Homo sapiens: one gene and its partners. The protein of the gene in region 1 purifies or fractionates together with the protein of each later gene. This does not show direct contact. Each region holds a gene or a part of one and is shown on either strand. Other genes may lie near its edges.

What was found.
Region 2: the proteins of EDEM1 (region 1) and SUFU purify together in Homo sapiens (affinity purification with mass spectrometry; 2 studies listed by BioGRID and IntAct, with this or other methods). This does not show direct contact.
Region 3: the proteins of EDEM1 (region 1) and USP25 purify together in Homo sapiens (affinity purification with mass spectrometry, with the first as the bait; one study listed by BioGRID). This does not show direct contact.
Region 4: the proteins of EDEM1 (region 1) and HSP90B1 purify together in Homo sapiens (affinity purification with mass spectrometry, with the first as the bait; 2 studies listed by BioGRID). This does not show direct contact.

The regions. Positions count from the first base shown.
Region 1 is NC_000003.12:5,211,707-5,215,206, reverse strand, and holds part of EDEM1 (ER degradation-enhancing alpha-mannosidase-like protein 1), read right to left. Parts: intron 1,889-3,500; coding exon 1,685-1,888; intron 1-1,684. UniProt on the Homo sapiens protein: Extracts misfolded glycoproteins, but not glycoproteins undergoing productive folding, from the calnexin cycle.
Region 2 is NC_000010.11:102,590,972-102,594,471, reverse strand, and holds part of SUFU (suppressor of fused homolog), read right to left. Parts: intron 1,891-3,500; coding exon 1,748-1,890; intron 837-1,747; coding exon 751-836; intron 480-750; coding exon 407-479; intron 1-406. UniProt on the Homo sapiens protein: Negative regulator in the hedgehog/smoothened signaling pathway. Down-regulates GLI1-mediated transactivation of target genes. Down-regulates GLI2-mediated transactivation of target genes. Part of a corepressor complex that acts on DNA-bound GLI1.
Region 3 is NC_000021.9:15,834,482-15,837,981, reverse strand, and holds part of USP25 (ubiquitin carboxyl-terminal hydrolase 25), read right to left. Parts: intron 1-3,500. UniProt on the Homo sapiens protein: Deubiquitinating enzyme that hydrolyzes ubiquitin moieties conjugated to substrates and thus, functions in various biological processes including inflammation and immune response.
Region 4 is NC_000012.12:103,936,910-103,940,409, reverse strand, and holds part of HSP90B1 (endoplasmin precursor), read right to left. Parts: intron 2,716-3,500; coding exon 2,604-2,715; intron 2,071-2,603; coding exon 1,951-2,070; intron 902-1,950; coding exon 785-901; intron 1-784.

The DNA.
Region 1 (3,500 bases):
TTATCTGCTTCATCTCCAAAGAAACATTTTCCCCACGCTTTGTAGTAAGTTGAACTTACTACACCCTGCTCCTCATCCCTGGCAAGATCAAGACTGGCCGGTCCTTCCATTGGTCCCGACTGCCCCCACCAGCCCACATCTCTGTGCTTTTGCAGGTGCTACTGCTTCTGCCTGAACACCCTTTCTGGGATACCCCTTTTCATCCTTCAAGGATCTCCAGCAAGTGACCTCCTCAGGGAATCCTGCCTTGATTTTCTCTGGAGATTACTCCCTACCCTCTGTGTTTCAACAGCACTACAGACAAACGCCTAGGATGGAAGTGGATTCCCCACTAGGCCATGCTCCTATCCAGAACCGGGAGCCCTTCTGAGGGCCTGAATCCCTGGTGCCTGGAATCATGGGATCAGATCTATTAGTGAGTATGGCAGGTCAGAGATGTCTCCTTCCTAAAAGAGAAGACACTGCCTGGGTCCAAATCCTGGCTCCACTGTGGGACCTGAACCTCTCTGTGCCTCCCTTTCTTCAGCTGTAAAATGGAGATGTTAAAAGTAACCACCCCTCACAGGGCTGTTGTTAGAAGTAAACAGATTAATGTACGTAAGCGTTTAGAATGGTGCAAAGGCTAACCCTGGTATGTGTTTGCAAATGCTGGCTGTTATTAACTCTTCCCCCTCTCACCCTCCTTCCCCTTCCTCCCGATTATGCTTTGTCCACTCAATCAGCGCTCCATGACTGATGGAAATGGGGGCGGGGGTGGTTATCTACACTCTGGCCTATCGATTTACTTCATAGACTGATGGTGAAGACCTTCACTGGGGCATTAACGGAAAAGCACTGAAGCACAGTCGGCGATGAGAGGGCACCCCTAATGCCAAGGCAACCCATCTGTGGGGAGGCTGCCGAACTCCTGACCACCAAGGCCCTGGGGGATAACAAGATTTGAAATTTTGACTGACCTACATTTCCCTATCCTCACTTCCAAATCATCCTATTTGATTCAAATCAACACAACTACCTGATACTTTCACTAGGGATGCAAGGACTTCCATTTCCAAATTTTTCCTGCTGCTTCTCAGGACAATCTAGGCATGTGGAGTAAAGCCCCACTTTAAATGAATGTGGGTGTTTGCTGCACTTCGAAGAGCATCTTCATTGGGACCATCGTGACCATCACTGCTTTTTTTCCCTTCTGCTGCTGGTAAATGATTTTGCTGAATGTCTTCCATTTGCCCCTCCAGGTCCACTGATGGATCATATCAACAGGCTCCCTCGGCCTCCAGCTTCTGCCCCAGGCAGCCAAGAAGATGCTCCAGCAGGCAACTGGGGGAGCGGGGAGGGGTCACATGTTGACTCTGCCGGCTCCCTCCAGGCAAGGCCTTGAAAGTCAGATCTGAGCCGTGGCTCCTGCTGAGTGCTCGCTCCTCCCACAAGGCTCCCCCCTTCCAGGATCCTGTAGCCACTCTCCCCACCAGCACCTGCAGCCAGCAGTGATGATGCCACCGCTGCTCCTGCGGTTTCCCTATACCCTGACAACAGCTATGTAAATGGTGTCTTTAGGAGGTGTTTTCAAATCTCCCAATCTGCATACACCATCAATTTTCTGTCAGGAAGTCTGAACAACTAAGCAATTCATAGTATCTTCTCTTCCTCTATATGCAAATCACCCCTGGAAAAAGCAACTCACGTTGGAGCTGGAGTTGATGACTTTTAACTCATGAGGTTTCGGCCTGTGCACAGACTTTCCCCCTTGGTCCTGCCCTCCCTCTTCAGAGAAGAATTCCTTCCATGGCAATTCCCGAAGATGCTCATCCACAGATACAATGTGTCCCTCTGTTGTGAACATGTATCTGGTTCCAGACTTGTGTACTGGATTGTCTTCATCAAACAGCTAGAGGGAACGGAGAAAAAGATACAACCAATAATTGTAGCACACTGGGAACTGAATCATGGGGGCGTGTCCCAGCTACTCAGGGAGTAGAATTTGCTTGGGCCTCATGCTTCTCAGTGACAACTGGGTGAAAAGGAATTGACTGACAACTGTGGTGCCCAACCCAGGCTGCAAGGCAGAATCACCTGCTTCATCTAAACTCAGATGCCCAGACCTGCCTCTCCCCTACACATACCCTGCCCAGACGCAGAGACTCAGAAATTCTGAAACTAAGGCCCAAGCACAGGTAGTCTATAAAAGTTCACTGGATGATTTCCATGTGCTACCTAAGAGTTCTCCTGCTGGAATTCTAGAACTACACCCAACCTCACACACACCTAGACCCTGAACTGTAAATGCTGACAGGGAGGGACCAAGTTTTATCCACCACCATTTCCCCAGGGCCTAGCACAGAGCCCAACACATCTGCCAACATTCACTTCACTTCTTGCACAACAAGGGTTGGGCTCTGAAGACGCAATGGACACAAGGCACAGTCCTTTCCCTCAATGGTGCATGTGACACGGAACGAAAGAGCATCTAGAAAGAACATCTAACCCAATATGGGATGCAACAGTGCAGGAGAAGGCAAGTGTTCTGTGAATGTTGAATGAATGAATACCTAGAAACTCTTTGAAACTTTATTGGTCACCTAAACTATTTCAAGATGAGGAAAAATGAGATTCAGTGCAGCTTGTCAATGTTTACACAGTAACAAGAGAAGAACAGGGTAGACCACAGGTTTTCCTCTCCCCAGACTCTAGGTTCTTTCAGCTAGCACACCCTCCAGGGTCACCTTCCTTTTACTCTAAAACTCGCCCTGTTAACGTCCTTCTGACACCAGTGGCTGCTGGATGGAAATATGTAGCTAGGCTCTGACCAGCCTGATTTAGCAGAACTGAGCCACCTGCAAGGAGAGCAAGAACCACTGCACACACAGGAATCGACAGCAGGACAGCTGTCTTCCCACTGGACAGATCACATGGGCTGCTGGTGGACATACCTCTGCAGTCATCTGTGAAAAGACCCCAGACAGAGAAGAGTATCGTCTTAATGGATTAGACCAGCAGCTCCAAAACCTGGCTCATGTGAAACCACTGGAGGCACTTGTCAAAATGACAGATTTCTGAGCCCGCTTATTCTGAAGATTCTGACTTAATATGGCTGTCATCTTAGCAAGGGCCCCAGGGTGATTTGGACCCAGCTAGCCCCAGGCCTAGGAACCACGGAACTAGATAAACACAATTTATCACAGCTGCTTCTATCTCTGACCCTCTGCCCAAGTTCTCAGTTGCCATGCTATCTTCTAACCTGGAAATCCTGCCCTCTGTTTCTATGTGGCCATACTGAGGAAAGTGGCAGGGGGCACGAGAGTGGCTGTATGCACGAGGCAGAGCGGTGAGATGGAAAGAGCACCAGACAGGGAGTCAGGACCACAGTTCACACCTCAGCTCTGCCACAGCCATCGCCATACTTTGAGCAAGTCGCCTGACCTCTGTGTAGGCTGTAGTTCTTGTGAGGGAAATGATGAACATATGAACATTAGGTAATACCAAAGGGTTCGTCCAGGTCC
Region 2 (3,500 bases), on another chromosome or scaffold:
TCAGTATCACCTACACTACTGTCTGGTACAGGGCGGTGGTGGCCGTGGTGGCTCCCTAAAAGAAAGTCTGGGAGGCAGGAGAATGAATACTGGGCAAGCAAGCAATATCCACTACACTTATCTTTTATTGCTGGCAATCTAATTTTTTAAGCCAATATATAATTTACATACAATAAAAATATCCTTTTAAAATGCCAAAATACATATGTCTGAGGACTAGCTTTCCTGGGCTGAAACCTCTGCTCCCTACGTGCTCTGCAGAATTCAGGGGACAAGTTCCAAGTGATGCCATATTTCTACTCACTCACACATAAAGGTCCTCTGTTTTCCCAGGATGAAAGCCAGTGTTATTTGGAAGAGGCCTAGGCACAGGGTGCTAGAAAGGTTTTCCTCACTCAAGACATACTTGCAGGTGTGGATCGATCTCAAATATGGTCTCTCCCCTCCGCATGTCAGTTATCAGCCAGGGGCCGCCAGCACTGTGGACAAGGAAAGGGGATACAATGGTAACTGAGGGTCTGGGGCTGATGGGCTGGGCCTACAGCCTGCCCTGTTTGCTGCCCCAGGCCTAGGACACAGGGGAATAGTTCGTGGTCAGGGACTGTCAGGGAGTGAGTCGTCAGGAAGCCCTGATGTGAAAAACCAGGGTCTGAAATAACAACGCAAGAGGGAGCCCCACATGGAGGGTAGTGGAGGGACTCCCACCCCCAGGCCCAGGGAGCCGCGCTCCCACCTTGCATGGGTACTCACATAGGCACTGTCCGCAGCAGCTCCAGGATGCCCTGCCCGTTCCACTGCTGGGCTGAGTGTAGCTCTTCAGTGCAGACACCAACGATCTGAGGCCCAGGATAGAAAGCCCATTGTGTGTTAATGGCCACCCCCCACCCCAAGAAGGTCAGCTACCCAGGCTCTCTGAGTCACCTCCAGTTGGGAGACCACAGGCAGGATCTGTGCTCAGGAGCTGGTGCAGCCAAGATTGGATGATTCCCTTAGGAGGGAGTGGCTGCCTGGCTGGGAAATGGCTGGGTCCACATGTGGGCCCTGAGGCCTGACCCTTGCCCTTGCTGTGTCTGGATGACACCAAGTCTAGCTCTTAGCTACAAAGGAGAAAACCAAGGCCTGAGCAACTCAAGATGTGTCCTCAGGCCATGTCTCTGGAAGTAGGGGAGGTTCAGGGAGCCATTCCTACCCAGTCTGGTATCATGGGGAATGTAAACAAGAGACTTTGAGACCTATCAGGCTTGGAACCACCACCAATAGGTCATAGCAGCCTGCAGAGAAACTCCTCCCTTCCTTATTAGGGGATAGGCCTTTGTGTAAATATCAAGGGAATCAGTGGAACCTTCACATAGACTTCGTGACCAAAAACAAGCACTGGTCAAAGCTGGGCAGGTTCCCACAGCTTCTGGCAAAGAGCAAGGACGACCCAGAGCTGGCTTCCCGCTGGAAAGTCCTGTTCCTGAGACTGGGTCTTCACTGTTCAAAGAATACCCGCCACCCCATTACTCCCTCTCAGCTACAGCCATTCTCTCCCAACCAAATGCCCCCTTCCCTTTCTCCCCTCTCCCATCTCAGCAGGTTAAATCAGACCATCTGAATCTACCTGACAAACCATCAGAGGAAACAGAAATCAGGACGAGGCCAAAGGAAACCTCCCACTCCCTTCACTCCCCCTCCTCAAGCCTCCTTGTCCTCCCAGGACCCTTCCCACAGGAAGGCTTGAGCCAGCGTCCAACCTGTGCCTCACCTGGAGGAAGGTAACTACCCCAAAGGGTGTCTGCACGGGCTGCATCTGTGGGTCCTCTGTCAGCAGCATGTGCTGAATTCTTGACTCACTGTTATCCAAAGGGCTGTGCCAGGACACATGGTCCCCACTGCAGAAGGTGTTCTCTGTGGGAGAGATACAAGGATCCTCATTGTTCAAGGCCCCAGATCCAGGCCTGGAATCTGGGCTGGGATCTCACTAGCCCAGGCTGGGAGGCTTCCCAGCCTCTTAGGGTAGCCCCTGTGAAGGAAGAGAAGCATTCACTCCGGATGGAAGCAAAGAGTTTGTGGATATTTCCAAAAACCTAAATTGTTCCTGCTTGCCAGTTCTGTCAGACTTGAAAAGGACAGGCTATTAGTGTGAAAGCTCCTTCGGCCTGGGAAACCAGAAAGACTTCTGGCATCTGCTTCGCTTCCCCAATATCCCGACTCATGGTGGGAGGCAGGAGCCATGACTGGATCTGCCAAGAAAGAATAAGGTGCTTTTCTGTAGGGCCACCTGGCCAGAAGTCCACAGAGAGGCAACAGGGCAATGAAAGCCCTTCACCTTGGAGAAACAGACCGAAATTCCTATGTTGCTGAAATGGCACTCAGAAGGAAACATCGAACCTTGGAGAGCCTTTGAAATCTATCACCATTTTCCCACAGGCAGATGTAGGAATTCCTGAGGAACACTAGGCTTCAAGTAAATGGAGGTCTAAATAGTGCCTCCCACACCGTGGCAGAGACAACTCATGAGGATCCTCAGGCCATGTCTCTGAGATGTTCAGATTCTGCCAAGGGTAGCTGTTGCCATGAGGGCATAGCCTCCTCACACACAGGCTCACCACTGCACTTCAAGCAGGTACGTTACTTTAGAGAGAGTTTTGTTTAAGGCCACATAACCACAAGGGAAAACAACCCCACAGGGTACTAAGTCTCTCACCAGCTCTGACTCTCATCGTGGGTGCCAAGGTGCTCTATATGTCCAGCCTATGCATCCACAGGCTCCCTTCCATGTTTTGTCCTTACACAAATGGAAGCACACTATTCTGCAGATTTCACTTAATTATATATCTTAGACAGCACCTTTTTTTTTTTAATATGGAACACTTCACGAATTTGCATGTCATCCTTGCGCAGGGGCCATACTAATCTTCTCTGTATCGTTCCAATTTTAGTATATGTGCTGCTGAAGTGAGCACGAGATCACCTTTTTTTTTTTTTTTTGAGATGGAGTCTCGCTCTGTTGCCAGGCTGCAGTGCAGTGGCGCGATCTCTGCTCACTGCAACCTCCGCCTCCTGGGTTCAAGCGATTCTCCTGCCTCAGCCTCCTGAGTAGCTGGGATTACTGGCATGTGCCACCACACCTGGCTAATTTTTTGTATTTTTAGTAGAGGTGGGATTTCACGGTGTTAGCCAGGATGGCCTCGATCTCCTGACCTCGTGATCCGCCCTCCTCGGCCTCCCAAAGTGCGGGGATTACAAGTATGAGCCACAGCACCCAGCAGAGATCACTGCTTCTCAGCATATGGAGAGCTATCTCATTCTTTAAATGGCTGTTCCAGAGTTCACTATGGTCTGTCATTCACGATCTCGGAATCTCAACAGTTGAGGTATCTTTCTTCACTTTTTATCAATATTTAAGGTAAGGCAGAACACACACATACACACACAGACACACCTTTTCCATCCAAGATACGGCTTCAGTTATTGGTCCTAACCTCAATAGTGTTCATTCAGGCAGGAGAAGGAAG
Region 3 (3,500 bases), on another chromosome or scaffold:
CCTGGGCAACAAAGTGAAACTGTCTCAGAAAAAAAAAAAAGAATATCACCTAGTTCCTGCTTTCAAGGAATCTGAGAACACTGACGATACTGTTTATTCTACCAGGTCTTACTCTCAGGATCCAACCGTACTCTCCTGGAACATCAGCTTATTTTTAACTTGTAGACAGTGTAGAGAAGTTCCAGAGCCAACTCTGCCTGCTTCCTCTAGAGAAATTTATAAAACCTTACGCAATACACTTCATTCCAATCTTCACTAGTGTTTCCTTATTTTTTAAAGAAATCTGGGTGTGCTATATTGTAAGGACTTCAGATACTTCTTGGATAAGACAAGAGTAATATAAGTAAAATAGTAACTCGGACAACGCTCTTCTCTCCAGCATAATTTCTGTTTTATAAATACAGCCTAGAGCCATGCTGCTTAACCTCAGAATTATCTGAAGATCTCTTTAAGATAGCACTGTATCAGATCCTTTCTCCAGAGATTCTGACTCCAGTGTCTCTTAAGTGGCCTTAGGTAGGGTGTGCTGTTCACACTCAGAAAAAAAAACCCTACTCACTCTGATCCCCACACTGACAGCAAAGGATGGCTGGCTGAAAATCTCAACAACAGTATTCAGGTAAGTTTGCTCCCCTACTCACTCTGATCCACACACTGACAGCAAAGGATGGCTGGCTGAAAATCTCAACAACAGTATTCAGGTAAGTTTGCTCCCCTACTCACTCTGATCCACACACTGACAGCAAAGGATGGCTGGCTGAAAATCTCAACAACAGTATTCAGGTAAGTTTGCTCCCCTACTCACTCTGATCCACACACTGACAGCAAAGGATGGCTGGCTGAAAATCTCAACAACAGTATGCAGGTAAGTTTGCTCCCCTACTCACTCTGATCCACACACTGACAGCAAAGGATGGCTGGCTGAAAATCTCAACAACAGTATTCAGGTAAGTTTGCTCCCCTACTCACTCTGATCCACACACTGACAGCAAAGGATGGCTGGCTGAAAATCTCAACAACAGTATTCAGGTAAGTTTGCTCCCCTACTCACTCTGTTCCCTACACTGACAGCAAAGGATGGCTGGCTGAAAATCTCAACAACAGTATTCAGGTAAGTTTGCTCCCCTACTCATTCTGATCCACACACTGACAGCAAAGGATGGCTGGCTGAAAATCTCAACAACAGTATTCAGGTAAGTTTGCTCCCCTACTCACTCTGATCCACACACTGACAGCAAAGAATGGCTGGCTGAAAATCTCAACAACAGTATTCAGGTAAGTTTGCTCCCCTACTCATTCTGATCCCCACACTGACAGCAAAGAATGGCTGGCTGAAAATCTCAACAACAGTATTCAGGTAAGTTTGCTCCCCTACTCATTCTGATCCCCACACTGACAGCAAAGAATGGCTGGCTGAAAATCTCAACAACAGTATTCAGGTAAGTTTGCTCCCCTACTCATTCTGATCCCCACACTGACAGCAAAGAATGGCTGGCTGAAAATCTCAACAAAAGTATTCAGGTAAGTTTGCCTTTGCAGTAAGCAGATCTAGGGAAGCAGCATGAAATGAACCAAAAAATACTTTCCCATCATTTATTATCTCAGTAGGGAACGAATGGTGCTGGTGAACTGATACGCATGAATTTCTCGATCACATTTTAGCAGAAGAGGAACAAATACTAATTTGATTAATATAATATGAATTAGTACTCTTAATTGGAATATCACTCAGTAGAAATTGAATTTTATGAGGTCTTATGTTTCAGCTTTAACGAGAAGATTTTGCAGGGAGGAAAAAAATCATTCTGTTGGATTTTATGAACAAGATTTCCTTTTATTATTTCCACTAGTCACTGGTAATACTAGTGAACACCTGAGAGATTAAAATACAGATTTGCTTTGAGATCCTGGAAGTATTATACCAAATTAAATTACTTACTTTGAAAACCATGAGAAGAATCAGAAGAGGATGGCATGGACATTAAAATAAAATTTCCCTATTAATAATAGGGAATAAATGGTTCTAATGAAACATTAGTCTTATTCAATTATGATATGTGAAACTATCCTGCAACAGAGAACAAATTTCTTAATATAATCTCAAAGATAACAGTAATAGAAACCAATCTTTTAAACAACAATCTCACTCTGTAAATTTATGGACTTGGCATGTTCTACTTCTACTAATTCAAACCAAGTGCATATTTCCGTCAAGTCTATGGAGGATACAATGTTTCCTACAGAAGTAGTATTACCACTGCTTTCTAAATAACCCACGCTGAAAGGTAACTATAAAAGTTATCTAGGAATAGGAATTGACCATTTCCATCTCTTCATCTTTTATTCTGGTTCCTCCCAGAAATATATCAACATTCTAAGATTATTTTGCATGGTAAAAACAGACATGAAAATATATGTCCAATACCTAGTACTGCATTTTTTAAAAATTACAAAACACCATGTAAAGTGTATGGTCAGATGTATTGATCATGAAAATGGATGCAGTTATGCACACATGGTCTTTTCACAGAGAAAGAAAAAAGATGACAAATGTAAAATGAGGATGGGGCAAGGCTAGTCCTTAATAGATAGGAATATTAGTTGGAAATATGTATTCGTTTGACTAAGCAGAAATAAAATATGTTAACTCTGAAAATTTGGAGAGATGAGAAACAGACAGGATGAAGAGGAGGAGGATATATAGAACTTAATATTTTGGTATCACAAAATATAGGTGAGCCAAGAATAAAACTGGAGCTTAACCAATGAATGGAGGATTCACCTGTGTCTGGGAGCTTAGGTACCACAACTGCTTATAGTACACTATGCAGCCCCTTCCTCCCACTAATAACAAGAATAGTCACATGTGAATGGAATAAGTAAATGTTAAGGGAACAATAACACAGTAGCTCCATCTTGGGGCAGGTTCTGAGGAGTGATTTGGAAAGAATATGTACAGAATGCAAAGCATGAAATCACAAAGGGACAGAAATGTTTTAAAAATGAAAGGAACTATAATATAGTTACTACACTGTGATTTGAGCTTAGATACCTCTTGACATCTACTAAAAACTACATTGTTGTGGACCCACATAGCTTCACCTGCTCTACGCGGTAGCCTTGTACACGTGGGGGAAAAGTGCAGCCCTACATAATGGTAGAGTTCACCAGCCACTATAATGGTGGTATTCTCCATAGCACTGTAGTATCCAAATGTTGCTGTGATACCATTATCTTTTTAAAAAATGCTGAATTATCTGCCTCTCAGGATCAAAATCAACGACAATTATTTGATCTACATGAAAATAAGTTAAGTATCTGGACAGATTTGTGCATGCCTGCGACAGTCACAATACTACATTGTAGCACTGTAAAACAATCTTCTATTGAAGTAATAATTCCTTCTAAAGTTCAAATGATAATGCTGAAGCCCAACCAGGTAATGCTGCAAGGAAACCTCTGTCTGCGAAAGATGAAATTAAACAAACAAAAGCTGGAAC
Region 4 (3,500 bases), on another chromosome or scaffold:
AACTTTATCAATGCTAGTTTTGCATCCTTAAGAGTTACAAGAAGGGATCAATAAAAGAAGAAGAAAAAAAAAAACAGGCAAGGAAACATAAATTTAGTAATTATTCCCAGGCATAGGATCTCACAATAAGTGTTTGATGTCATAAGCAAGCTCTTTAAAGATTATATTAAAAGCCACTTAACAACATGATTTCATGTTTTACGGGTTTTGTGGTGGAAATCACACATCTACCTATGTAGGTGGTTCTTAATCTTTTTTTGTCACACAAAACCCTTGGCAAGCTGGTGAAGGCTACAGATGCCTTCTCAAAATAATTTTTTTAAAAAAATCACATATTACAAAATACACAGGAATAAAAAGGAAACCAATTGTGTTTAAACAGCCATAAAACTGTTTCAAACATTCTTGATTTTGTAGTTTCACTATTCACTAAGAGCTAGGACTAATTTTAATAACTGCTGCAATTTTGAAGTAGTGATGAGTATAATAATTCAACTTAAGTAAAAATGGTGTGTTCTGGAAACCAATTACTCTCAAAGACCATCTCTACTGAGGTGTCAATCTCAAAGGTTCATAAATGTGATTTTAATTGTGACTAGGTCAATAAACCAGAAGTAGACATATTATAGTTGGCCTAAAGGTCTTTTTTTGAATTTTCTCACTGGGAAAAAATGGGAATGGACCATCTCATATTCATGGTCACATACCATATACAATTAAACTAAGAGGGTGATATTTTGTCTATTCATTAATAACCAGAAACTAGGGAATTATAAATATTTACCTTTGAAAATGATTTGTAGAAAGCTTTGTATTCATCTTCTTCTACTTCTTTTGATGGTCTCTGCCATATTGGTTTGATATCATTCATAAGTTCCCAGTCCCAGACAGTTTTTTCAACCTGAAGTTATTATAGTATTTGATTAGTCTCTCTCAGCACTCACCAAGGTTATCCTAGCAGTAACCATGGCTTCAGTAGATTTCAAAAGACTATGTAAAGACCCAGAGGACTGGTGTGGTGGCTCACGCCTGTAATCCTAGCACTTTGGGAGGTTAGGGTAGGAGAACTGTTTGAGCCTAGGAGTTCAAGACCAGTCCAGGCAACATAGCAAGACCTCCAACTATACAAAAAATTTTTAAAACTTAGCCAGTCATGGTGGCGTGTGTCTGTGGTCCTAGCTACTTGGGAGGCTGAGGTGAAAGGACTGCTTAAGCCTAGGAGTTCAAGGATGAAGGGAGCTATGATCGTGCTACCACACTCCAGCCTGGGTGGCAGAGACTCTGTCTCCAAATTAAAGAAAAAAAAAAAAAGGGCACCAAAGGATACCTGTTATCTAGTAAGGTTTCTGCCAACTGTATCAAAAGCAAAGTATTTTTCTCAATATTTAATTCAAAAAGACAATTGTTAACTGATGAAAAGCCACTTAAGTTTTTCTTCATTGTTATTTTTTAACTAGCAAAAATGTTTCTTGAAAATATTTGTTTTGAGGTTAGAAGGAAATACATATTATATATTCCCATTTCATGACTTAAAGAAATCCAACATTTTACAAAAATATTTCTCAACCACCATGATCAATACTTCTTAGTCTGCTACCTAAGCAAGCCAGAGAACCATTTTTATGGTTAATCTCTGCATGATAAAAAGACAAAAGAGGACTCAGAAGGCTTTTTAAGATTTTAAAATTCCAAACATATAAGCCACCAGTCCTAGGCAATATATAAAAGTTAGAAAACTCTTCATAAAAATGACCTGGGTTTGATACTTAAAACTTTCTACAGGACAATGTATTCAACATACAAACAAAGGCCTTATTTTAAAAGCTGGCTCCATGGACTTAGCACCTGAACTGAAGCTGACTTCAAATCAGCCAGTGCATACTTAGGTTTTCCTGGTTTTGCCTATACATGTTAAACAATATCTTATGCAGGGAGATAAACCAGACTTACTTTTTTAGTCTTTGGTTTCTTTTCTTCTTCTTCTTCCTCTACTGCAGCTTCATCATCAGATTCTTCTTTCTCTTCTTTGGCTGCTTCTTCTTCCTCCATGGGCTCCTCAACAGTTTCAGTCTGTTGAAATAAGAGAATTATGGTTAAACTCATTTGTTTAACAATTCTGATTTTGTCTACAGAATATGATATAACATTACAGGTCAAAAAATAGGTTTTTGTAAGAAAACCCTGAGAGTATCCTTAACTAATAGACCACATTTTGCCTTCATTCTTTTTTTTTTTTTTTGAGACAGAGTCTTGCTTTGTCACCTAGGCTGGAGTGCAGTGGGGCGATCTTGGCTCACTGCAACCTCCGTCTCCCGGGTTCAAGCAATTCTCCTGCTTCAGCCTCCCGAGTAGCTGGGATTACAGGCGTGTGCTACCACACACCCAGCTAACATTTTTGTATTTTTAGTAGAGACAGGGTTTCGCCATGTTGGCCAGGCTGGTCTCGAACTCCTGACCTCAGGTGATCCACCTGTCTCGGCCTCCCAAAGTGCGGGGATTACAAGCATGAGCCACCGCGCCGGCCTGCCTTCATTCTTTTAGTGTTGAATATTTAAATACGTGCCAAGGTAATACATATAAGTTTTTAATCAATATAGATTTACCTTGCTGCTCCATACATAAATAGGAAAGTTTATGAACTGTGAATATTTTTTGACGAGATTTTTAATTGTATCCAATTCAAGGTAATCAGATGCTTCTTCTTTTAAGACAAGGCTGCAAGAAAAATTCGATGTTTAGAGACACCTAACATTTAGAAGATCTGATTATAAATTCATTTAAATACCATGGTAATAGCCAGCAGTTCAGTATAATCCAAGATGTCCTAATTATTCATGTTAACTCTCCATCACCAACAAGGGTTTGTGAGCTAAAATGTAACACATGTAGATACAGTAAAGAGAAGAATCTCCTCTACATTACCTCAAGTGGAGAATAACCTTAGTTTTAAGTAGAAAATTAAAATATTCCCAACCGTCTGAATAGATTGTTTTCATTTTTCAAGGTGAGAAAGCACTGAAATATTCTGGAGAGAAATGGAATCATGCACTCTCATAGCTCTTACTGTTATTCCAGAAACCTAATGATTATTGTAGATAACTATTCCTAATTAATGAAAACATTTTCCTTAAAAAAGCTAGAAAATTAATCTGGTTTATATTTATATCTGCACTATCCAAAATGGCAGCCACTGGGCACATGTGACTTATTTAAATAAAATGTACAGTTCAGTTCCAGTTATGCTGCCACATTCCAAGTACTCAACAGTCACATGTGGCTGGTGATCGCCAAAATGGAAAAGTGCAGATATAGAACATTTCTACTATTATATAAAATTCTACCGGGCAGTGCGGGGATTACAGGTGTGAGCCACTGTGCCCGGCCTAGAACCTACTCTTAAGCACAGTAGGTAGTCCATATCTTGATACTTGTGTTCCCAATTAAGTATGGGAAATGGTCTATCTATGGTTCCCTCCCTGTCTCAAAAGGCTCATTAGTTT